3 separate regions of the Homo sapiens genome follow, and all the other regions are linked to region 3. Evidence: fine-mapped expression QTL. A gene starts in region 3. Each other region holds a variant in brackets. All regions are shown on one strand. Distances are between the middles of the regions. Region 1 overlaps FOXN1 (forkhead box N1). Region 2 holds the start of SUPT6H (SPT6 homolog, histone chaperone and transcription elongation factor). Region 3 holds the start of RAB34 (RAB34, member RAS oncogene family).

Region 1 (8,249 bases), 170 kb after region 3:
GGCCTGGAGCCATCTCCTTGCCCTCAGCTGCCTTGGGGAGCCCCCATGCCTGGGTAGCCCTGCACATAACACTGCCCTCAGCCTCCACCCCCACCCCAGACTCAGAGGAGGGGGCTGCTTAATGGAGGAAATTCAGGAACTGAGGTGGGCAGAGAGCACACCCTACAGTTTCAGGCCCTCCTTCAGATATGCCCAGAGCTGACGCACCCTCTGGGCTGAGGAGCTCTGGCCCTAGGAGGCCCAGAAGTGCTGGCATTCAGCTTGATTCTGTGAAGCCCTTGCTGGGGGAAGTGGGGTGGAGCTAGGATCTGCACTGAATTCTGGGAATTCTGAAATGAGTGAGACACAAGGAACACATACTCGTCCCTAGGGAAAAAAAAAGGACTGGGGACACGGAGAGCAAGAATCAGAGTCGTTCTGTGTGGAGGGTTCTGGGGAGGATTTTTAGAGGAGGTAGCACTGGAGCAGGTGCTTGTGATGGAAATTGATGGGGAAGAGTGCTTAGGCACAGGGAACAGCATAAACAAAGGCTCAGAGGCAAGATTTGTCAGGTGTTTGTTTGTTTGTTTACTTATTTATTTGAGATGGGGTCTCCCTCTCAAACTCCTGGGCTCAAGGGATTTTCCTGCCTTGGCCTCCCAAAGTGCCAGGATTATGGGCATAAGCCTAGGTGTGTTCAAGAGTCAATATGATGTGAAAAGAAGACAGATTGGCAGAGCCTTAGGAGCAGGGCTTCTGAGAAGTGGGGAGCCCCTGTGGAGGATTAAGTGGGCATGACCTGGTCAGATTATCTCTGGCTGCTGAGTGAATGGTGGATTGGAAAGAATGACACTAATAGCCAAGATTTACTGAGTGCCAGGCTGGGTGCTCTACATGTGTTAACTCATAAACATGGTCATTTCTGAGGAAGGCACTATTATGATGCCCATTTTACAGAAAATGTAGGTCCAGAGAGGTTAATGTACCCAGCCAACGTTGCACAGCTATGAAGTGGCAGAGCCAGGACTTGAATCCAGGCAGTCCGGCTCCATGCACTACCATACTAAAGGCAGGGGGGCAGTGAGGATGAGGAGGGTGCTGCAGGAATCTGGTGAGAGAGAAAGAGAAACTGAATTAGGTCAGTATCCTCAAAGATGGAGAGAAACAGGTGAAACTGATATTTTTAAGAGGTGAGATCCTCAGGAGTGGTGGCTGATTGGATGAGTGGGTTGGAGAGAGGGAGGAGGTGAGGCTGACTGCCTGGTTTGTGGCCTGGGTGCTGGGGTAGCTACAGGTGCCATCACTGGGTTTGGGAATGCAGGTTGGATCAAGGTGGATGCCAGCAGGAGAGGGTGACTTCAGACTGGGACATGCTGTGGCATGGAGGAAATTACCAGAAGACAGGAAAGGTGGGCCCTAAGACCAGGAGGGGAATAAGGGCTGGAGGTGGTGATTGTCGAGGCCATCGGCCACAAGGTGATTTCTGAAGCTATGATGGTGGCTGAGATCATGGGGTCCTCCACTGACACTCTTGTTATTTAGGAATGCCAAATGTCCTGCAATTACTGGGATTCTCCCAAACAATGCTATTATAATACAAATCCCCATCCCCTAATTGAGGGTGCCTGAACGAGAATGTATCACCTTAGGGAAGGCCAGTGTTTGAGAGCAGGGCGGAAGGAAAGGAAACAATGGAGACAGGAGGAGTGAGCCTCCAGGGAGGTGGGAGCAGAGCCATGTTTTGGAGGAAAGAATTTCATCACAAAGCAAGTGGGCAGGAACTATCAGTTGCCACAAAGGTAAAGAAGGAGAATGAGGACAAGAATGTGGAAGGGAGGGATTTGTTTGCAGATGAGGCTGTACAGGTATGAAAGAAAGGCCAGTATAGGGGTGATTTTGCTGTTGTAGTTTATGGGGTTACAAGTCTGCAGAGAAGGTATAGCAAGGAAGAGGACCTTTTCCCAATACCCTGATAATAGTTCTACTCACTGCAGCTGCTAAGTAAAACTGGGTTGAGGTTCTAGATTGGGCCTGCTGCACTTCCATCTTCAGAGAGAGAGGAGGGTCCCTATTCTGAGGTTCTCATCTCTGAAGTAGGCACCCAGTTGGCACTCACCTTGAAAAGAGGCCTGCGTTCCTTGGGCTTGGAGGAGCCTAGGTTGGGAAAAGCCTTGGCCCCATGCCTTCTTTTAAGTCTTCATGCCTCTGGCACTAGTCCTATTGCAAATGGTACATCTTGCTGCATTTAGTTCCTGGCACTGTCCCTAGGAACCTAGAGGCTGCCTGGGAGGAAGACAGGGTGGAGGTGGGGCTAGTCTTGGCTCTGATGTTGATGAGCTGTTGACCTTGAAGGGGCAATTCCCTTTTGTCTCTGAAATGGGCCAGTCATTTTTGCTTTGACTCTTTTTTTTTTTTTTTTTTTTTTGAGAAGGAGTCACGCTCTGTCGCCCAGGGTGAAGTGCAATGGCATGATCTCCAGGGTGCAGTGCAATGGCATGATCTCGGCTCACTGCAACCTCTGCCTCCCGGGTTCAAGTGATTCTTCTGCCCCAGCCTCCCAAGTAGCTGGACCCATTACAGGCACCAGCCATCATGCCCGGCTGATTTTTGTATTGTTGTAGAGACGGGGTTTCACCATGTCGGCCAGGCTGGTCTTGAACCCCTGACCTAGGTGATTTGCCCGCCTCGGCCTCCCAAAGTGCTGGGATTACAGGCCTGAGCCACCGTGCCTGGCCTGCTTTGACTCTTTAGGGGTGTCATGAGGATCCTGCCCCTGGGTAGAGAAGGAAAGCCCAAGTACCACAGGGAAACCCACAGCTCGTGCCCTCCTGGGCTGGCCGGCAAGGTGCTCACTGGGACTGCCAAACCAGTGGTTAAAATACTAAGATCTTCCCTTCCAGCTGTTAAAAAGCTGCTGTCCCAGGCCGCCCTAGCCTGGCCCCTCCCCTAAGAGTCACCCTCCACTTCCCCACCATCTGGCAACTAAAGCAAGGACATTACCCTTTTTTTTTTTTTTGAGTCAGGGTCTCGCTCTGTTGTCCAGGCCAGAGTCCAGTGGCACAATCATGGCTCACTGCAGCCTCAAACTCCTGGGCCTAAGCAATCCTCCTACCTCGTCTCCCAAGTAGCTGAGACTACAGAAGCTACATGTGCCACCATACCCAGCTAATTTTTTGTAGAGATAGGGTTTTGCCATGTTGCCCAGTCTGGTCTCGAACTCCTGTGCTTAAGCAATCCTTCTGCCTTTGCCTCTCAAACTACTGGGATTACAGGCCCAGCCCCTTGCTTTACTTTTCTATGTGTCACAGACTCTCTTGTTGTCAGTCTGCTAAAGCCTATGGACAATAAAAAGGATTTTAGGAACATAAAATATATTGTTATCCTATTTATTTATTTATTTATTTATTTATTTATTTATT[TATTG/G]GGATAGAGTCTCGCTCTGTTGCCAGGCTGGAGTACAGTGGCACAATCTCGGCTCACTGCAACCTCCGCCTCCCAGGTTCAAGCGATTCTCTTGCTTCAGCCTCCCGAGTAACTGGGACTACAGGTGCATGCCACCACACCCAGCTAATTTTTGTATTTTTAGTAGAGGTGGGGTTTCACCATGTTGGCCAGGATGGCCTTGATCTCTTGACCTCATGATCCTCCTGCCTTGGCCTCCCAAAGTGCTGGGATTACAGGCGTAAGCCACCCTGCCAGGCCTATCCTATTTATTTTATGTATTAAAAACTATATACAATTGGCCATAGGTTCCGCATCTGTGAATTCAGCCAACTGTGCATCAGAAATGTCTGTACTGAATATGTGCAGACATTTGTCTTGTCATTAGTCCTTAAATAGTACAGTATAACAATGATTGACAAAGGATTTACATTGTATTAAGTATTATAAGTAATCTAGAGATGATTTAAAGTATACGGGAGGATGTGTGTAGGTTATATGCAAATACTCCATCATTTTATATCAGGGACTTACTTGCACATTCATGGATTTTGGAATTTGTGGGAGGCCCTGGAACCACTGTGAGATGACTGTGTGTGTGTGTGTGTGTATCTACAATCATGCACTAGATATCGATGTGTCTGTCATGACAGACTACATATATGTCGACAGTCACATAAGATTATAATACTGTATATATATATATATATATATATATATATATATGTTTTTTAAGACGGAGTCTTGATCTGTCTCTCAGGCCGGAGGGCAGTGGCACAATCTTGGCTCACTGCAACCTCTGCCTCCTGGGTTCAAGAGATTCTCCTGTCTTGGCCTTCTGAGTAGCTGGGATTACAGGCGTGTGTTACCACGCCTGGCTAATTTTTTGTATTTTTAGTAAAGATGAGGTTTCGCCTTGGTGGCCAGGCTGGTGTTGAACTCCTGACCTCAAGTGATGTGCCCGCCTTGGCCTCCCAAAGTGTTGGGATTACAGGTGTGATCCACCGTGCCCGGCCAATACTGTATTTTTTACTGTACCTTTTCTATGTGTTGTAGAAACACACATAGGCATTGTGTTACAATTGCCTACAGAATTCAGCACACTAATATGCCACACAGGTTTGTAGCCTAGTAGCAATAGGCTATCCCATAGAGCCTCTAGGTGTGCAGTATGCTCTACCATCTAGGTTCGTGTGAGTAAACTCTATGATGTTTGCACAATGACAAAATTGCCTAAGGACACATTTCTCAGAACGTATGTCTGTTGTTAAGCGACAAATTACTTTATGTGTGTGTATATGTGTGTGCATGTGTATATATTTGTACATATTTTGTACTATCTATAATACAATTACAAAATATCTGTGATTTCTATTGACAAAGTCACAGGTATTGCCAATGCTAGTGTGATTTGTTGCTGACATTCACAATAGAGGGAAATTCTAGATTTCAGGTAAGGATGAGAGAAAATGAAGATGTAACTTTTTCATGCAAGTTCCTGACCTGGGAATTCTAATCCATTTGAGATCTCTCACATTTAGAATCCCTGAGCAAAAGGATTAATTCCCTCCAAATAACGGACTTGAAGACGCTGCATCCATTCAGACAAATTGTTGCTCACCCTGGCCAGGTGTGGTAGCTCATGCCTGTAATCCTAGCACTTAGGGAGGCCAAGGAGGTGGCGTTGTTTGAGCCTAGGAATTTGAAACCAGCCTGGGCAACATAGTGAGACCCTACCTCTACAAAAAATACAAACATTAGGTGGGTGCGGTGGCCCACGCCTGTAATCCCAGCACCTAACAGAGGCTGAAGTGGGAGGATCACTTGAGCTCAGGAGTTCAAAACTAGCCTGGGTAACATCGCGAGACCCCATATTTACTTAGAAAAATAAAATTAAAAAGATGGTTGCTCACTCTAATAATGGCTATATGCTTGGTATGGGGTGGCCAGCAGGGGGCAGCATATGAGTGGGAGTGTGGGGCTCATTTCAGGGTGGAACTGAGGCCCAGTTAAAAAAAGTCTGAGGGCCTGGTTACACTCTCTCTCTCTCTCTCTCTCTCTCTCTCTCTCACACACACACACACACACACACACACACACACAAAACTAGACCCAAGTCCTACCTGCTTGCTACCTGTCTTCTTGCATTAGGGGCCAGTTCACACACAGGTGTGCTGAATGTGCCCACTGGCCAGAGTTTTGACAGAGGGTCTCCTGGAGGAGATGGCCTAGCCTGGGTATATAAGGCAGGTTTGTCTGAGCTCTCAGAGTCTCAGGACCCGAGGCAAGCAAATGGGTCCCAATAGGATTCTCCCAGGAAACATTTGCCCTGTGTTTGGGGGCCTGGATGTCATCAAGACACAGGCCCAGGGTTGGACAGAGCTGGTGTGCAACATCGCCTGAGGTCTTGGCAAAGAGCCTGCACCTGCTTCCTACACAGCCAGGGCCAGGCTGGGGCAGGTGGGCCTTCCTCTTGGGTGCACCCGCTGGCCATGCCTTCCCCACTCCCTATCCTACCTCAGCCCACCAGCCCTGCATCTAGCCTTCCAGCCTCTGCTGGGGCGGGTGCTGGGGTAGGTGGGGTTCTATTATGGGGTCTTTTGCAGACCTATCCTCTCAGAGGTAGGTGTTGGCTGGCCCCCTGGGCCCAGCCCCAAGAAGAGCTTTGTTTTTTTTATGAGACAGAGTCTCACTCTGTCACCCAGGCTGGAGTGCAGTGGCACAATCTCAGCTCACTGCAACTTCCACCTCCCAGGTTCAAGTGATTCTCCTGCCTCAGCCTCCTGAGTAACTGGGATTAAAGGTGCCCACCAGCACACTCAGCTAATTTTTGTATTTTTAGCAGAGGCAGGGTTTCACCATGTTGCTCAGGCTGGTCTCGAACTCCTGATATCAAGTGATCCACCCATCTCGGCCTCCCAAAGTGCTGGGATTACAGGCATGAGCCACTGTGCCTAGCCATCCAAGAAGTGCTTTCTTTTCTTTTTTTTGAGACAGAGTCTCACTCTGTTGCCCAGGCTGGTGTGCAGTGGTCCAATCTCGGCTCACTGCAACCTCTGCCTCCCGGGTTCAAGCGATTCTCCTGCCTCAGCCTCCCTCCTGAGTACCTGGGATTACAGGCGTCCACCACCACGCCCAGCTAATTTTTGTATTTTTAGTAGAGATGAGGTTTCACCATTTTGGCCAGGCTGGTCTTGAACTCCCAACCTCAGGTAATCTGCCTGCCTGGGCCTCCCAAAGTGCTGGGATTACAGGCGTGAGCCACCGTGCCCAGCCTTCATCCAAGAAGAGCTTTCTAAGCAGAGACACCACTTGTGGCTGCTCTGGGACCTGGGGATCATGTATGTGCTTTTGGCTCCCACATCTGCCCCATCTCTCTTGAGACAGTGCTGCGGTGACACCAACCCCACCTGGAGGTGACACCTAGGGGGTGAGTCTGAAGTGGGACTGAGTGAGCCCCTGACCATCCAGAGACCACTCTCCAGGACCAGCAGTGCACACAGCACCAGGGCATGCTCCATTTTGTCACCTGTGGAACTCAGGGCCCCAAACCACTTGGCATCTCTTTCAGCCAGGGACAGATTGGAAGCAGAAAGGCACAGTTTGGACAGGGCAGCAACTCCTTCTTGTGTGAGGAGATGGGGGTGCAAAGAGGGAGTGGGCAGACCTCAGAGGCAAGGGGTCTGGGGGAGGGCATCCCCTCCATTCCTCTGGCCAGGGCAGCCTCTTCCCTGCATCTCTTTGGAAGTTCTCCTGGGAAGAGGCCCTGCTCACCTGCTCCTCAGCCTCCCCAGTGGGTCAAGAAGTTTTCCTAGATGCCTCACTCTTTGGATTAGAAACTTCCTAGTTCTGGGTGAGGGTGACAGGGACGTCACAGGCCCAGGGCATCTGCCATCAGTGTGGCCTGGCCATTTTGCTTAGGGAGAGGGGCCAGAAATGAAAGCTTGGTAGTGAGACCACAAGGCACTTGCTTTATTGTTCCAGGACAGGGGACAATGACAAGCCATCGCGGGATCTGCTTATGCCTCCTATAAGCCTGGGGCCAACCTGTGGAAGTTCTTGTCACCCCCAGGCCCAGGGTGGGCTGAGGTTCCCCCTCGATGGGGTCAGGCTCATGGCAGGCACCTGGGCCACACCCCGCAGGGCCAAGGGTATCCCTTGTGCTTCCCGGGCACCCTAGGTCTGCCAAGCAGTCAAAGCGGGGGTGCTTTGCATGGGTGCTTCCCTGTCACCCTGTGCCAGGCTTTTCTCCTGAATGCCCAGGTTGCCTGAGACAGTTGGAAGTAACTAACAGGTGCTCCTCAACTTATGATGGGGCTACATCCGGAGAAACCCATCGTGAGTGGGAAACATCGTAAGTCGAAAGTGGTTTTTGACTTTCGGTGGTTTCAATTTACAATGGGTTTATCGGACATAACCGCATCCTAAGTCGAGGAACATACTGAATGTGTATTGCTTTTGCACCATCTTAAAGTTGAAAAAGTGTAAGTTGAACCATCATAAGTAGAGTTAAGCCAGGACCTAAACTATGTGAACTTTTCTTTCTGGAGGAGGAGTGAGATTGTGGTGACCTGGAGGGGGCCCTTCCTGCACCCGGGACTGGGGAAAAAGGACATGTTCAAGTTTCCGAGGGCAAGGGCTTTTCCAAACACTGCTTCGGAATTGGGCTCAGTTTGGTGCCCGGGTAGATGTTGCCCCTTCTGTATGTCACCCTGGGGAAAGCTGGACAGAGCATGTACTAAGGATGGGTAGAGAATGGCTGAGTGGGTGCTGCCAATTAGCAGCTCCTGGGGGGGTCCACAGACAACCCAGGGAGGAGCTCTCTGTCT
Region 2 (8,249 bases), 51 kb after region 3:
GGTCTCTCTTGGGTATTTTAAGCAATTTTTTAAAAAGTACCCTGAGGAATAATGCTTATTACACACCTACCAAGTGCCAGACACTAACAAATACCCTACTATTTTATGTCCCTATCAAGGAGAACAAGTATTCTATTAATCCCTACACTGTCCTATGAGTTACAGCACACTTCTCTCTCAACAGAGGAGGAAACAGACTCAGAGAGATGTAGTCATTTGTTCAAGGTGACAAAACTATCATCTGTAAGTGCTGAGGTCTGTCTGACTCTTCATGGTTGACAGTACCACATCTATCAATAGTTTTCAGGGCGTGGTCCAGGGGCCAGTCCCTCTGTTCTCTCAGGAGCATAGAGTGGAGTTTTCCAGAGGTTATAGGACATGTGGTTATCACAACAGACTGAATGCAAAAACATATGAGAACACAGCTGTATTCTGTTAGAGCAGACATTAAAACATTGTACTAAAAAACAAAGAATGTCATTCTTACTTAATTTACTTATTTTGAGACAGAGTCTTACTCTCTCACCCAGGATGAAGTGCAATGGCACGATCCTGGCTCGCTGCAACCTCCGCCTCCTGGGTTCAAGCGATTCTCTTGCCTCAGCCTCCCGAGTAGGTGGGACTACAGGCGCTCGCCACCACGTCTAGCTAATTTTTGTTTTTTTTAGTAGAGATGGGGTTTGGCCATATTGGCCAGGCTGGTCTCGAACTCCTGACCTCAAGTGATCCACCTGCCTTGGCCTCCCAAAGTGCTGGGACTACAGGCGTGAGCCACCACGCCCGGCTATTCATTTATTTTTTAAGACAAAGTTTCACCATGTTAGCCAGGCTGGTTTCGAACTCCTGAGCTCAAGTGATCCACCTGCCTCGACCTTCCAAAGTTCTGGGATTACAGGAGTGAGCCACCACACCCAGTCCATTCTTACTAAAATGTTTTGTTTTAAAAACTATTATTATTCGGCCGAGTGCTGTGGCTCATGCCTGTAACCCCAGGCCGAGGCAGGCCGATCACCTGAGGTCAGCAGTTTGAGACCAGCCTGGCCAACATGGTGAAACTCTGCCTCCACTAAAAATGAAAAATTAGCTGGGTATGGTGGCAGGCGCCTGTAGTCCCAGCTATTCAGGAGGCTGAAGCAGGAGAATTGCTTGAACCTGGAAGGCAGAGGTTGCAGTGAGCCAAGATGGTGCTACTGCACCGACAGTGAGACTCCGTCTCAAAACAAACAAACAAACAAAAAAACCCAAAAAACTACTGTTATTCATAAAAAGTATTATTGTTTACTACTTTAAAATAAATCAATAAATATTTTTAAATGTCTCACTGAGTTTTAATTTCGAATCTGGTAAATATCAAAGGATATAACTCACATAAACAAAATGTCTTTGAAGTCCTAAATAAGTTTTAAGAGTATAAAGGGGTCCTGAGTCCAAAAAGTTGAGGAGTGACTGTAAAGACCCTAAAGAGATGCGGTATAGTAAGCCTAGGGGTTAGGGTGATGCTCCCCCATGACCCCAAGATCTCTATCCTTAAGGTCATTTAGCTTGAGCACTGCCAAAAGTGAAAGTCTTAAACTTCTGCCAATTAAATCTAGAGCTCTAATTTTAATTTTGACATTGCTCCCCCTCAGCCCTGAACTGAGCCATTAAAAACAGATTTGAGTACGGCAGCCCCCACACATAGCTTGTTCTAATTAGGCTATCAGACCCACAAGTTCAATCTTTTAAGGCCTCAACATCTTCAAATTAAATGCCAGCTCCTGCAGACCAGATGCCCCTCAGCCTACTTAACAGAGAAACACACAGCCTACCTGATGAAAACAACAGCTTTCTTCTGTCTCAAGGGCAGCTGGTGCTCCATGCTGCACACAGCTTGGAAAGATAGCTGTGTTCTCTTTCTTCCCATCGCCTAGGTTAGCAATAAAGCACACACTATGCTATAGCTGGGGAATGCCTCCAATCTAGCTCAATACCAAGACTTCCAGTTATAAGAGGTGTGCCAGAAGCAATTCTGACTTGCTGCAACTTGCAGGAGCTAGATGTGCAGACTGCAGTAGCACTGCAGTCTGAGACTGACAAGCGGGAACTACTCTAGAATAAAGACACTAATGTATTTATTTGTGTATGATTATTATTAATACATGGTATCTATGATGAGCCTGATGTAGTTTGGATGTTGTATTTAGCACTTATGCTCTTAAAATTTTCCCCATACTCACACTGTAAGTTAAATTTGCAACTGGAATAGGTCTAGAAGGGCAGTGGGGAGATGGAGGGAGAGGTTTCTCTAGTCAGAAGCACAGCTGCAGAACAAGATGTGGCTCAATGGGAGAGGCTGGTGGTTACCATGACATTCGCTGGAAGAGGAATGGAACTGGGATCAGATTGCCACAAGGGAGGCCCTCTGCAGTCCCTCCCTTTGAACAAGAAGTTGTAGTAGGCAATTAAGAGGAGACCAGAGTGAAAAGAGATCTAGTCTGTTAATTCCTTCCACTTTGCAGCTTCAATTAACATTTGCTGGGTTTTTTTTTTTTAGAGTCAAGCTCTGTGCTGGGACTTGTGTATATAAAAATGAGTAAAATATGCTTCCTACCCCGGTGGAGTTCACAGTCTTGGTGGAGTTCACAATCTATCTCAAAAAACTTGTTAATAACGTTATGACAAAGCACAATAGGGTTATGTTAAGTTATATAACTGGACTATGAGAGCAATGGGAAGGTTGGGGAATATCTGAGAAAAGGTGATGCCTGAATAAAAGAGGATTTAAGAAAACAGTCTGGAAAAAGGCAACATGAGCAAACATTTAGGCGTGGTGCTCTGGAGAACAGCCCCAGAAGTCTAGGGTGGAGTTTAAGCTACAAGACATTCCATGTTGTCTTGTATCATATATACATATATATATATAAAACACACACACACACACGTATTTATATATATATACACATATACATATATACACACACATATATACACATATACATACATATGTATACACACACACATACATATATATATATATATATATATATATATATACACACACACACTTTTTTTTTTTTTTTTTTTTTTTTGAGACGGAGTCTTGCTCAGTTACCCAGGCTGGAGTGCAGTGGCATGATCTGGGCTCACTGCAAGCTCCGCCTCCTGGGGTCACGCCATTCTCCTGCCTCAACCTCCCAAGCAGCTGGGACTACAGGTGCCCACCACCACGCCCAGCTATTTTTTTTTTTTTGTATTTTTAGTAGAGACGGGGTTTCACCGTGTTAGCCAGGATAGTCTCAATCTCCTGACCTTGTGATCCGCCCGTCTCAGCCTCTCATAGTGCTGGGATTACACTTGTATCCTATATTTTATGGGCAAGGGACTAGGACTATTCCAAAGGTATCCATAAGTGAATATCCAATTTGGAATTTCAAAACCTAAAAGTTTAATAGATAAAAGTATTTAGAGTCTACTTAAGTCCTTTTAAATCTGGAATTCAGAAGGCTTTGTAATTAAAAAAACCCTGAAAACCTAATTACATGAAGTCAAGATGTTAAAATACAGAAAAAGTTAATTTTGTTCATTTAAAAATATTATTTATTCGGCTGGGCGCGGTGGCTCACGCCTATAATGCCAGCACTTTGGGAGGCTGAGGCAGGCTGATCACTTCAGGTCAGGTCAGACGCTCGAGACCAGCCTGGCCAGCATGATGAAACCCTGTCTCCACTAAAAATACAAAAATTAGCCGGGTGTGGTGGTGCACGCCTGTAATCCCAGCTACTCAGGAGGCTGAGGCAGGAGAATCGCTTGAACGTGGGAGTCAGAGCTTGCAGTGAGTCGAGATCATGCCATTGCACTCCAGCCAAGGTGACAGAGCGAGACTCCGTCTCAAAAAAAAAAAAAAAAAAAGTATTCCTTTTCTTTCCACATTTCTTTAGAGAAACAGGGTAAGGGCTAAAGAAGAGTACAACTGAAATATGTAACCAGATTCAGAACCCCTGCAACACAAAGAGAGATTAACAGTTACTGAACCTTGTGGTACACACA[T/C]TGAGGAGCGCATAGTTCCTGCTCTAGCACAGGGGTTGGCAAACCTTTCCTTTTCTCTATAGGGCCAAATCTGCCACTGTAGCACAGCATACATAACATGTAAATGAATGGGGGTGACCTTATTTGGCTCACAGGCCTTAGTTTGTGACCCCTGATTTAGAGAATTGATGATAAGAATAGCATGGGATCCTGTAATAAGACAACCTAACCTGGTTTTGAGGAAGTGACTTTAAACAAAGACCTTAAGAGTAAGGAGGAATTAGTTCAGCAGAGGAGCTGGCTTCTTTGGAGATGGTTTGGGGAGTGATGTCAGAGACGTGTGCTTCTAGCACAACACGTGTACTGTGGCAGGTACAGAGAAGGCCCAGGAGAGGAAGAATGGTTCATAAGGGTTGGAGAAGTCATAAGGATCTAGGCACTGGGAAGCCATTGCAGGGTTTTAAATGTAGAACTGAACTTAATCTACTTGCTAATCCAACAAAAACTTATTATTTTCTGAGATGGGGTCCTGCTCTGTCACCCAGACTGGAGTGCAGTGGTGTGATTACATCTCACTGCAGCCTCCACCTCCTGGGCTCAAGCCATAATCTCACCTCAGCCTCCCAGGTAGCTAGGACAAATACATATACATATACATATACGTTTTTTTGAGACAGAGTCTCGCTCCATTGCCCAGGCTTGGAGTGTAGTGGCACGATCTCAGCTCACTGCAACCTCCGCCTCCCAGGTTCAAGCAATTCTCCTGCCTCAGCCTCCCAAGTAGCTGGGATTACAGGCACCCACCACCACGTCCAGCTAATTTTTTCTTTGTATCTTTAACAGAGACGGGGTTTCACCATGTTGGCCAGCCTGGGCTCGAGCTCCTGACCTCAGGTGATCCGCCTGCCTCAGCCTCCCAAAGTGTTGGGATTATAGGCGTGAACCACCATGCCTGGCATAAATATGTATTTAATGAGTGCCTACCACATGCCAGGCACGTACAAGACTAGGTCCATGCCCCTAGGATGCCCGTATTCTGGTGCAGGAGACATATTGGCAACAAATAAAATAAACCTTGCTCTAAAAGCGAAGAAGGAAATGCATATTCTCATCTCATCTAAAGTGAGTTTACTTAGGCTGAGATGTCAATAGGTAGGATATGACCTGTAGAAGTAGGAGGAGAGGTTCCAGTAGAGAAAGTGGGCAAGAACATGGTATATAATAGGTGATGTCCTGAGGCTGATGGCACTAGAGCATGGTGAAGGCAGCAGCCTATGAGGGAGAGGTATGCTCAAGCAGGGCGTAAAGGCCATGGAAAGTCACTGGAGAGTTTTAAGTAGGGAAATGACATGATCTGCCCTGATCCAATTCTGTTACATGGAAAATGAACTGGAGGAAGATCTGAGTGGAAACCAGGGAAAACTGAAGATACTGTTGTGGTAGCCCAGGCAAAAGATGGTGGTGGCTTGGAATAAGGTGGTAAAAGTGAAGATGGAGAATAGAAGACAGATTACAAAAACATTCTGCAAGTGGAAGTGACAAGACTTACTGAAAGACTGGGGAAGAGGAGTAGTAAAGGAGAAGAACAAAGATGATTCTCAGAGGTCTATCTTTGGTAACCCTGCGGATAGGAGCACCACTCAGTGAAACGGGAGGATAAGGTTTGCAATGATGAGAAAACCAAAACTTTCTTTTGGTTATGTTAGCTTTGGGTGCCTAAGAAATATCCAAATGGAGATAATTAAACAGGCATTTTTGACGCGTGATTCTGCAACATAGAGGAGAGGGCTGGACTAGAGATTTAAACTTTGGAGTTGCCAACTTTCAGGTGGTAATTAAAGCCATGGGGCTGGGTTACCTAAAGGGAAGCATGTAGAAGGCTCGGGATTCCTGTGAGAATTCCAACATATGTAGATATACATATATTTTGAGACGGAGTTTTGTTCTGTTGCCCATGCTGGAGTGCAGTGGCATGATCTCTGCTCACTGCACCTCTGCCTCCCTGGTTCAAGTGATTCTCCTGCCTCAGCCTCCCAAGTAGCTGGGATTACAGGCGTGTCGCCACGCCCGGCTAGTTTTTGTATTTTTAGTAGAGATGGGGTTTCACCATGCTGGCCAGGCTGGTTGTGAACTCCTGACCTCAAGTGATCTGCCCACCTCGACCTCCCAAAGTGCTGGGATTATAGGCATGAGCCACTGCGACCAGCCCCAGCATTTAGACATTAGATAGAGAGCAAAAGTTGCTAGCAAATGAGACTCAGAAGGAACAGCCGGAGAAATGGAGAAAATCCAAGAGTGAAATGTCAATAAAGCCAAGATGAAAGTTTGGAGGCAGGAGTAACTATGTTGAATATTGCAGAGACAGAGGAATATGAGAACAAAGTATCCATTGGATTTGGCAACATAGAAGTCACTGGTGACCTTGATAAGAGCAACTTCAATGGAGTGGGCAAAGTAGATGTGGTGGCACTTGATTACTAGAAGCTGCCTCAGGAGGACTGCTTGAGCTCAGGAGTTCCAGGTGGCAGTGAGCTATGATGGGGCCACTGCACTCCAACCTGGGCAACAGAGCAAGACCCTGTCTCCACAAAAAAAAAAAAAAAAATGGAGTGGGCAGAAGAGAAGCCAGATTGGTATAAAATGAAGAGTGAATGAAAGTTGAGAAAGCTGAGTTGGTACAGGTAGAAATCTATGAATGGAAATTTAAAAAATTGGCATGGTAATTGGAGAGGGATGTGAAGGATACCAGAACATAATTTGTATGCTGATGGGAACAGTTTCAGGGAGAGACAGGATTTGGTGACTGATTTTATTGGGAAATAGTGGACAGGAAGGAAGACAAGGATTACAGGCAGGACTGATGGTAGTGCCATTTATTAAGGTCAAGAATATAGAATCAGGGCAAACGTATTTGCCTACAAAGATCATGTTTCCACCACACTAGGTAGGCTTTCAGAGGAAGAACTGTAAAATTTGACTAAGCCTCTCCAGACGGTACCACTTTCTGATGTAATTAATCTCCTGATGAAGTTAAAACCTCCTAGAGTTGCAAGGCTATGCTAATCCAATCTAGCAGCCACACAAGCCAAGTGAATAAAAATGTACTTGTACTGGTGAAAGGGACATTACTCGTAAAAAAGGGCTCTAAATTCACAGCTGATGGAAGAGCAGTTATGTTTCTGTAATCAAAACACTGAAGACTTACAAACTGGTAACTTCCAGATAAACAGTGGAACCAGACATTTTTCCGAAGAAATTAATCAAATTCAATATTGTTTACACTCCCTAATGCTCATTAATGATGTAGCTTCATACACCCTTGTTACTTTTGATATTACAGTGAATTTCCACGGAAGTATTTTCAGAGATCTTAGCCCTCTGAAATAAGTATCAGTTCTTGCAACAACCCAGGAAAATTAACTTCTCCAGCTGGTTCAAAGGAGTGCCTGAGGAGAAAGGTAGAAACTAGAAGATGGAGTTTTGACTTAATAACTAATTTTGATGTTCATGATAGGCCTCTGGCAAACGTTTGAGGAAATGAATCTATAGAGAATGGACGGGCTTTAGGACTTCTACAAGACCTTCGATCTTTAGAAAGGGATGAAGGATGCAACCATCTACAAAAAGTTCTATTTGTATTATTCAGCAATATGTAAAGAGCTGGAATTTGGCATCGCCCTCTAGCCTGATGGCCGAGCTGCTGAAAGCTCCACAGGATTCATATCCCCAGAACAAACAACTCGATCACCTGATCCTGGCTCAGAAGCCCCAGGTCCCTTCCATCCCCAATCCTTTTGCGTGGCCCAGTTTTAAAAACCTGCGGAGAGAAGGACGGGATGCCAGGAAGCCTGTTGATTCAACGTGCCACCCGATTCACGGGTTCCGGGTGTCACTGGGCTGGGAAAAGCTTTCGGACTCTGAGCAACTACAGCGCTTTCCTCCCCCTTCCCCCCATAGAGCAGGGAAGGCCAGGCTCCCCCTTCTTCCCGCATACGGCTCCCCACTGCCTCTTCCCTTACGTGACCAGGCCCTAGGAGCCCGGTTCCCCACCTGACTCCTGCGAGAAACACGCTCTCCAGTCGGAACTTTACCTGTCTGAAGCCCGCCGCTCCTCCAGTGCGCTAAGCCCCCACCGAGGAAAATGGAGTCGTCGAACCGAGACTGGGAAAAGATAGTACGGACCCACCGCACGGCCCCTCCGCCGCCACCGCCGCCGCTGCTGCGTCAACGTGCTACGTCATTTC
Region 3 (8,249 bases):
CCCCTCGGCCTCCCAAAGTGCTGGGATTACAGACGTGAGCCACCGCGCCCGGCCTCTGGGCTGATCCTGCCAGTTTTGTAAATGCAGCAGAAACAATCTCCTCATACTTCCAATTAGAGAAGCACACTGGACACAATTTGCGTTTGAGAAACCATCACGCAGAGTGAGTGAATTTCCAAATTACCAATGGAGAATACCCAAATCTTTTCATGGGTACAGGGGGCAGTACTGACTTGTTTCTCCTGGGAGCGCTCTTCCGAGGATATTTGGGCTGTCTCCGGAGTCGCAGTGTCTTCGGCCGCCGGAAGGTGGGTGACGTGCGGATCTTCTTCTTTTTGTGGCTGTGGACACCTTTCAACACTGCCTTCTTGGCCTTTAAAGCCTTCGCTTTGGCTTCAGCTTTAGGAGGGGCAGGAGCTGGGAGAAAAGGAAAGAAAACGTGGGTGCGGGATTTAGAAATCGGTCACTTCCGGCCCCAAGAACTGCAGTGGGCCACCCTGGCCACAGGTGCATCAGTGGTTCCTTTGAAGACATCACAAGTGTCAGGAGATTAAAACTTTTCCATCATATGCACGATACCAGAGGCGAAAGCGACCAACTCTAAGTAACTCCAGGGATACGACTATGAAACAAAGTAGCACTGAATGAACGCTTGATACTTTCCAGAAAATGTCCTACGAATTTTACACATACCCCATCGCAAAACCACGCTGCGGAGAGAGGGGCGGGTAATGTAGCCCGGTTGAACATGAACCAGAAGGAAAATGGTTAAAGCTGAGGGCACTAATTCCTTACAGGCCCGGGGACATGGAGCTCCAACCAGTGGATGCATGTAGCTTCCCAGAACCGAATGTCTGGCCCTCCCTGGCGGATGATGCCTGCCGCGTTGCCCCCCCCCAACTCCCTCTACCGGAACTCAGCCCACGAGGCTGGGCCCACGCGGCCCACGTATACTGCAGCGTGTCCGAAACGCAGGGAGCAGCCCCGGAGCAGAGCCCTCAGGGCTTAGCCCAGCAGCCGTGTTCCCAATTCGTTCGCTCTGCGGCGCGGCAATCCCCGGTAAACCAGCTGCGGCCCCATCACCAACACACACCTTCCTTCTTCGCTTTCGGCGCCATCTTGTGAAAAGGGTCTCCAATGCTCGTTCCCACGGGCTTATAGCGCCAAAGAGCACTAAAGACTCGCGATGCTTTGTACTTAGAGCTGATTGGGTAATTTGCAGAGCGGCGCCCTCTGGGAACGGTAGTTAGGTTTAATTTCTTTTTCGTGCGTGAACAAACATGCGCCACTCCTCCCCTCAAAGGCACTAAAGCTTCATGGGGGTTGTAGTTTTTTGTTTTTTGTTTTTTGTTTTTTTTTTGAGCGCTCTGTCGCCCAGGCTGGAGTGCAGTGGCGCGATCTCGGCTCACTGTAAGCTCCGCCTCCCGGGTTTACGCCATTCTCCTGCCTCAGCCACCAGAGTAGCTGGGACTACAGGCGCGTGCCACCATGGGGATTGTAGTTTTTTGAAGACACGCGTTTATTTGCTCAGGCCAGCGGACGGCGTAGCCGGCTGGCGCTCGGGTCTGGTCCCGGGAGCTTCCTATCTTGAGCAACTGCCAGTCTCAGGGAAGAGGATTGCCATGCCAGGAGGCAGGAACGCTGCCAAGAGGAAAGAACACATTTGGATTGACTCGGGAGTTAGATACAGCTAAGTTCTAGAGTGCTGGAGCAGGATTTGCTCGGTCGAACTGAGGTCCAGAGAGGAATGTGGTTTATCAATAACACAGTGATTTGGTGGCAGAAAAAAATCAAGTCAGGGCCGGGCGCGGTGACTCACGCCTGTAATCCCAGCACTTTGTGAGGCCGAGGTGGACGAATTGCTTCGAGCCCAGGAGTTCGAGACCACCCTGGGCAACACGGCGAAACCCTGTCTCTACAAAAGAATACAAAAATTAGCCGGGCGTGGTGGTGCGTGCCTGTAGTCCCAGTTCCTTGGGAGGCTGAGGTGGGAGGATCGCTTCAGCCCTGGAGGTCGAGGCTGCAATGAGCCATTCCAGCCTGGGTGGCAGAGTGAGACCCTGTCTCAAAATAAATAAATAAATAAATAAATAAATAATCGAGTCACGAGGGGGAAGTGTCAGAGGAAGTACAAGGCGGCCACACCTGCCCCTCTTTACCTGCGACACTGATACTGTCAAGTTTTACTGCGTTTCCTGATAATGCATTTGAAGTTCTATGAAAATTCCACACATTTCTCCAAGATTCGCTAGTTTTTCCGGTTAGTAACTTCACTCACAATCCCCTGCCCTAAACTAGTCTTCCCTTCCGTGTCCTGGTCATCTTTACATCCTCAAATTCAGCTCCAGACACAGAGAAAGGTTTCTTAACACTCAGGTTCGCTTCTCCTAAGGTGTGTGCCTAACCCATCCCCACTTGATCCTTTCTTCTTCCCTCTCCCTTCATAAAACCAGACATGTCCCCTTTGACGGTGAAATTGATTGTGCACTGCCCCCTCTTCTATCCTGCAGGACTTTGCACAAAGGAGTTGTCCCTGGGGGATAGATTCCAATGGGGCCAGAACAATGAACACCCATACCAGAGGGGAGTCCCCGCCTCCCAGAGCGGAGACCACCCCGAAGAGCAGAGTTTCCGGGTCCACTTAGCCCTTCTTTAACCTCCCTCGAGGGAACTTGATCTTCAGCCCTCCCACCTCACAATCTACACAGCAGCCTTGAAGGAAAAGACGCCAGACTTCAGACGTCTCTCTCCTCGGTGGGCACCTCATTCTAACCCTGGCACCCCCTTCGCACGCTTCCCCTCCACCATCCTCACCCCCGACCTCCCAGGGCAGAAGGGCGAGAGGGGGCAGACTCTATGAGTCACCTCCCAGGCCTGGAGTTGAGGAGGGAAGCGCCGCCTCTCCTTGGGCCCCTTCTCTCCCCCTTTCCCCTCCCTGCTGGTTCCTGGCATCGCCAGATGCTGCGCAGCAGTCTCCGATTCCCCATCACCAATTCGGCTGGGTAAGGGTCCCCATGAAGGCGCAGCCGGGTATAGAGGTGCAGGGGAGAGCAGCCTGGGGAGTCCCTATCTGGATAGGCTCCAGCCTGGGTCGGGGCGGTCCTGGTGCCCGGTGAAGCGTCAAAAGAGGGAGCCTGAGCGGGGCAACGCAGAAGGGTGGAGAGGAGGGGGTGGCGAGGGCGGGCAGCGAGGCCTGGAGCCGCCAGGAGAGGGGCGGGGGGCGGCCCTTCTCCAGGAATTTCCGGGGATCGTGTTACAGCGTTGGCGGAGCCCGAGCGGAGTGGGACTCGAGGCCCTGTAGCCGGACTGGGCCCCTCGCCCCCTCCTCCAGCGGCCTGCGGGCCTTGGCAGCGCCGCCCCTGCCCACACTGACCCCGTGTGGCGGGGCCGCTCCGCGCCCCCGGGCCGCTCTGTAATGGTAGGGCAGCCTCAGCCCCGAGATGACGTCGGGTCTCCGCGGCCCCGGGTTATTGTAGGAACCATCCGGCCCCGCGTAATCGTAGGAACTATCCGGCCCCGCGTAATCGTAGGGTCTGCGCGGGCCCGGCCCCCACCAGACGGGACTCCCCGCCCCCAATTGGCGGCCGAAGAGTCTCCTCGCCCCAGAGTCATCTTCGGGACGCCCAGGGCCCGGGTGATTTTGGGCTCGCCGCGGCCCCGGGTGATTGTTTCATCTCCGTGGCCCGCGGTGGTCGTAGCGTCTCCGAGACCGCGGACTCCCGTAGGGTCCCCGTGGCCCCGAGTTGTAGTCGGGACACCCCGGCCGCGGGTGATCGTCGGGTCTCCACGCGCCCGGGTCGCTGACGCGGATCCGGCCTCGGCGCCTTCTCAGGGCGCCCTGCAAGGCCGCAGGCAGGATGAACATTCTGGCACCCGTGCGGAGGGATCGCGTCCTGGCGGAGCTGCCCCAGGTAGGCGCCGGGGCCACGTCGGGCTTCAGTCTACAGCCCGGGGTGTGGGCGAGGAGGAGGCGGCACCAGACCAGTTAGAGGACTGGGCCCAGCCCTGCCACCCAGCTAGGCCTGGTGCTTCTGGGTGGTCCCTGCACTCCACCCCTACCCGGGCCGCTTGGCTGCGGGACAAGGGCCAGGAGTAGGAAGCTCCATTCTCTTCCATCCTTCCCACTAAGTGCCTGAGGAAGGAGGCCGCTTTGCACGGGCACAAAGACTTCCACCCCCGCGTCACCTGCGCCTGCCAGGAGCACCGGACAGGCACCGTGGGGTGAGTTAGGGACACCCACAACAAAGAGAGGAGGTCCCAGGAAACTCTGTAGTCATAGCGAGGGTAAACAACCACCCCCTTGGGGCTTCATTTCAGCCCCTACCAGCTATATGGTTATTTCCCCCTCTTTAAGCCCCTGTATCCCCTCCTTTTCTCCCAACAAGGTTGTTGTGAGTTCTATGAGATGGGGTTGGGTAGAAGGGTGGCAGCTGGATTTCTGAGTAGAGACTAAGGTGTCTGAAATGGGAAGGTGGTCACCTGCTCAGATCCCCACATAGCATCCATGGAGCCCCAGGGCAGGGGTCTGGCTGTGCTTACAGGGATGAGTCTTATTGTGGGTTTTAAAGGTAATACTGATAACAGTTGGCACCATTAATTAAGCATTTGCTGTGTGCCAGGCAGTGTTGGGTACTATCATCTTTATTGAATGGAAAAGTCCATCACTTAAGATATATCCTGATTTCAGACATTAAAATGCGGGGGGGAGGGTGTCTTAGAATATAGGACATTTATCTCATTTTAACCTTCACAACGACCCAGTAAAATATATACTAACTTTACTTAAATGTTTAAACTGAGGCTTAGAGAGGCTAAATAACGTGTCCAAAGTCACACAGCTAATCAGTGTGAGAGCTGGGATTCAAATTCATGTCTCTCTGCTTCTGGAGCACAAAACACTCCTCCTCCCCAGCACACCTGTCCACGCAGCTGCCTGGGATGCCTGGTGTCTATAATACCCTCAGCCTGGGTGCAGCTACCTTTCTGGACCTAGTCGGGAGCATTGGAACTCCCTAGGGTGAAAGAGCTCGTGCCCACTCCCCTTGCCCACTCTTGTGTCCAGCAGATTTAAGATCTCCAAGGTCATTGTGGTGGGGGACCTGTCGGTGGGGAAGACTTGCCTCATTAATAGGTAAGGGGGTGCTGGAGCTGAGCTGGGCAGGGTGGGGCCAAGCCTAGCCAGGTGGGCTGGCTCCAGATCACAGCATCTGGTACCCTCTCAGGTTCTGCAAAGACACCTTTGATAAGAATTACAAGGCCACCATTGGAGTGGACTTCGAGATGGAACGATTTGAGGTGCTGGGCATTCCCTTCAGTTTGCAGCTGTGAGTGCTTCCACACCCCTTCCAGCTATCCCTTCTCCCCAGCACCCACACCCCCCAAGATACATACCTGTGCTTCACTCTTCCTTCCTTCCAGTTGGGATACCGCTGGGCAGGAGAGGTTCAAATGCATTGCATCAACCTACTATAGAGGAGCTCAAGGTAAGGGGCTGGGTGAAGTGGGGTAGGTGGGTCTCAGAGTGCACATGGCTTCTCATATGGAGCTGGAAGGATTGGGGAAATGAGCAGTAGTGTCTTCCCTGTCAACCTGGGGCTGTTTCTGCCACTCTTCCAGCCATCATCATTGTCTTCAACCTGAATGATGTGGCATCTCTGGAACATACCAAGTAAGTGAGCATCCTGCAATATAATGGGAGGCTCCGGGAAGAGAGGGTTCAGAACAGAGGGGTGGTCAGGAAGAAGAAGAATGCATGTAGGACCAGAGAGGGGGTAATTGGGCCTATGAATGTCAGTGGGAGGGGCCCTGCAGACTCACTCATCCCTTACTTTCCACCTCCCATGGCAGGCAGTGGCTGGCCGATGCCCTGAAGGAGAATGACCCTTCCAGTGTGCTTCTCTTCCTTGTAGGTTCCAAGAAGGATCTGAGTGTGAGTGTGCCAGTGGGGGGACTTCCCAGCTTGGTGAGGGAATGCCCCCCTCTGACTCTGGCCTTCCCTCAGACCCCTGCTCAGTATGCGCTGATGGAGAAAGACGCCCTCCAGGTGGCCCAGGAGATGAAGGCTGAGTACTGGGCAGTCTCATCTCTCACTGGTGAGTTGGAGGCTTTAGGGCTCTGCTGTGACACTCTTGCCTGGCTCTCCTCTCACTGCTACACCTCCAGCTGTGCCCTGTGTCCCCAGACCCAGCACTGCCCCTGAGCACCTATCTGCTCTCTGTGTCAGGTGAGAATGTCCGAGAATTCTTCTTCCGTGTGGCAGCACTGACCTTTGAGGCCAATGTGCTGGCTGAGCTGGAGAAATCGGGGGCTCGACGCATTGGGGATGTTGTCCGTGAGTGCTTGCCTGGTTGAGGGTGGCAGAGGGCACAGTGAGCCTCCAATCCCTGCTTCACATATTTTCCACCCTTCTTTAGGCATCAACAGTGATGACAGCAACCTCTACCTAACTGCCAGCAAGAAGAAGCCCACATGTTGCCCATGAGGGCTGAGGAGACTGTTCAGAGACTGCCCAGCCCTAGGGCACTGTGCCACCCTCATTCCTCCAGAGCTTGACCCCTGGACATTTGCACTGACTTTATCCAGACCAAAGAGCTGCCTCTTGGTGGCAGTATTCCCACAGAGGGGTAGCTGGGATCATGCTAGTCACTTCCTGCCCCCAGGCACCGTGCCAAAGACTGGATGCCCCCTACTCCTCAGGGGACTGTCCAGGGCGCCCAGTGGTAGTGAGGGAGAGTGTCTCTGTTCTTTTGCTCAGCCTGCTGGGCCCTTTGTGTTTGAGGATGCTTAATGATTCCAGCCTCTCACTGTGCCTTATGCATTAAAATTTCTTTGTTACGAGCACTTTGGGGCTGGAGTTCTTTGTTGGGGATGATGGATGTGGAATGGGCATGACTGTGTGGCCATTTTGGCACTAGAGTCCCCTGGGGATGCTGTGCTGGCCATCCCTGGCCCCTGGGCAGGTTCAGGTAGGCTGGGAGCTGAAACATCAGTTTGGGGGCTGCACTGGGCCCTCACTGGGTGAAGTCTGAATGGCTGGCTTTGAGAGCCCTTTCCCCTGATCCTTTCCCCACACGTGTCCTCCTACTTGGTGCTTATACCCAAATTTTCACCACTGGAGAATCTTTTTCTTTTTTTCACCCTTTTCTTGCCTTCCCTTTAAGAAGTACTTTTCCAGGCAGGGTGCGGTGGCTCGTGCCTGTAATCTCAGCACTTTGGGAGGCCAAGGCAGGCAGATCACTTGGATTCAGGAGTTCGAGACCAGCCTGGCCAACATGGTGAAACCCGCGTCACCATTAAAATCCAAAAATTAGGCCGGGCGCGGTGGCTCATGCCTGTAATCCCAGCACTTTGGGAGGCTGAGGCGGGCGGATCACGAGGTCAGGAGATAGAGACCATCCTGGCTAACATGGTGAAACTAAAAATGCAAAAAATTAGCCAGGCGTGGTGGCTGGTGCCTGTAGTCCCAGCTACTTGGGAGGCTGAGGCAGGAGAATGGCCTGAACCTGGCAGGCGGAGCTTGCAGTGAGCCGAGATGGCACCACTGCACTCCAGCCTGGGTGACAGAGCGAGACTCTGTCTCATAAAAAAAAATAAATAAAATAAAATACAAAAATTAGCCGGGCGTGGTGGTGCATGCCTGTAACTCCAGCTACTTGGGAGGATGAGGCAGGAGAATTGCTTGAACTCAGGAGTTATAACCATTAACTTTTCTTTCTTTTTTTTTTTTGTTTGTTTTTTTGGTTGTTTATGCCATTAACTTTTATAAGAAAGAAAGGTGACCAAGACCCTGGCTCCCTGTTGACATCTAACCCAGAGTTCCAGAGTAGCTGGAAGCACCTCAGACATCTGGGTCAACAAAGGAGGACTTATGGCCTCGTGTCATCCTGGGAGGCTAAGGGGGTGTCCAAGTTAGAAGGCAGATTCTGGCTCCCAGTTGCCAAGTGCTCTGTCTGTTCCATTCCTGGTTCCATTCTCACCAGGATGGTTGGTTTTTCTGCACACTTCCCTTCTCCTGGCTTCCCCTCCCTCGCAGTTCCTAGACTCTCTAGAGCTACCACGGGAAGGAGGGTCTGGGCAGCAGCCCTACCCACTCCGGACTTGGGTCTGGAGGAAAGTGAAGGTGGGGATCAGGCAGAGCAATAGTAGCAGCAGCAGAGCCCCTGGATGATGGTGGAGAAAACAAGGTGTGGACCCCATCCTTTCTCCTCCTCTTCATCCTGGCTTTGGAAGCTGGTGCCAAGAGAAATGGA

Evidence for each region. PIP is the estimated chance that this variant, and not a neighbour inherited with it, causes the effect.
Region 1: its variant is fine-mapped to the expression of RAB34 in whole blood (INTERVAL, PIP above 0.99).
Region 2: its variant is fine-mapped to the expression of RAB34 in whole blood (TOPMed, PIP above 0.99).

The regions. Positions count from the first base shown.
Region 1 is chr17:28,538,020-28,546,268 of GRCh38, reverse strand. It overlaps FOXN1 (forkhead box N1), which reads right to left. Exons shown (of 9, transcript NM_001369369.1): 9 at 7,369-8,249. Among named protein-coding and RNA genes, the nearest start is that of UNC119, 10 kb to the left of the region's middle. The variant TATTG/G (reference allele first, on the strand shown) is at 3,399.
Region 2 is chr17:28,662,190-28,670,438 of GRCh38, reverse strand. It overlaps SUPT6H (SPT6 homolog, histone chaperone and transcription elongation factor), which reads right to left and starts at 8,234. Exons shown (of 37, transcript NM_003170.5): 1 at 8,097-8,234. It also overlaps a transcript of SDF2 not described here. RefSeq lists enhancers at 7,444-8,118, 8,216-8,249, 7,647-8,249. The variant T/C (reference allele first, on the strand shown) is at 4,027.
Region 3 is chr17:28,712,875-28,721,123 of GRCh38, reverse strand. It overlaps RAB34 (RAB34, member RAS oncogene family), which reads left to right and starts at 3,256. Exons shown (of 10, transcript NM_031934.6): 1 at 3,256-3,911; 2 at 4,130-4,221; 3 at 5,066-5,131; 4 at 5,223-5,324; 5 at 5,419-5,483; 6 at 5,617-5,668; 7 at 5,848-5,929; 8 at 6,002-6,092; 9 at 6,224-6,331; 10 at 6,414-6,840. The coding sequence starts at 3,858. The coding sequence ends at 6,481. RPL23A (ribosomal protein L23a) reads right to left here and starts at 1,139. Exons shown (of 5, transcript NM_000984.6): 1 at 1,094-1,139; 2 at 234-417. The coding sequence starts at 1,118. SNORD42B (small nucleolar RNA, C/D box 42B) reads right to left here and starts at 574; the gene lies at 508-574. RefSeq lists enhancers at 425-584, 925-1,144, 1,575-1,624, 1,281-1,882, 1,883-2,483 and a silencer at 3,164-3,423.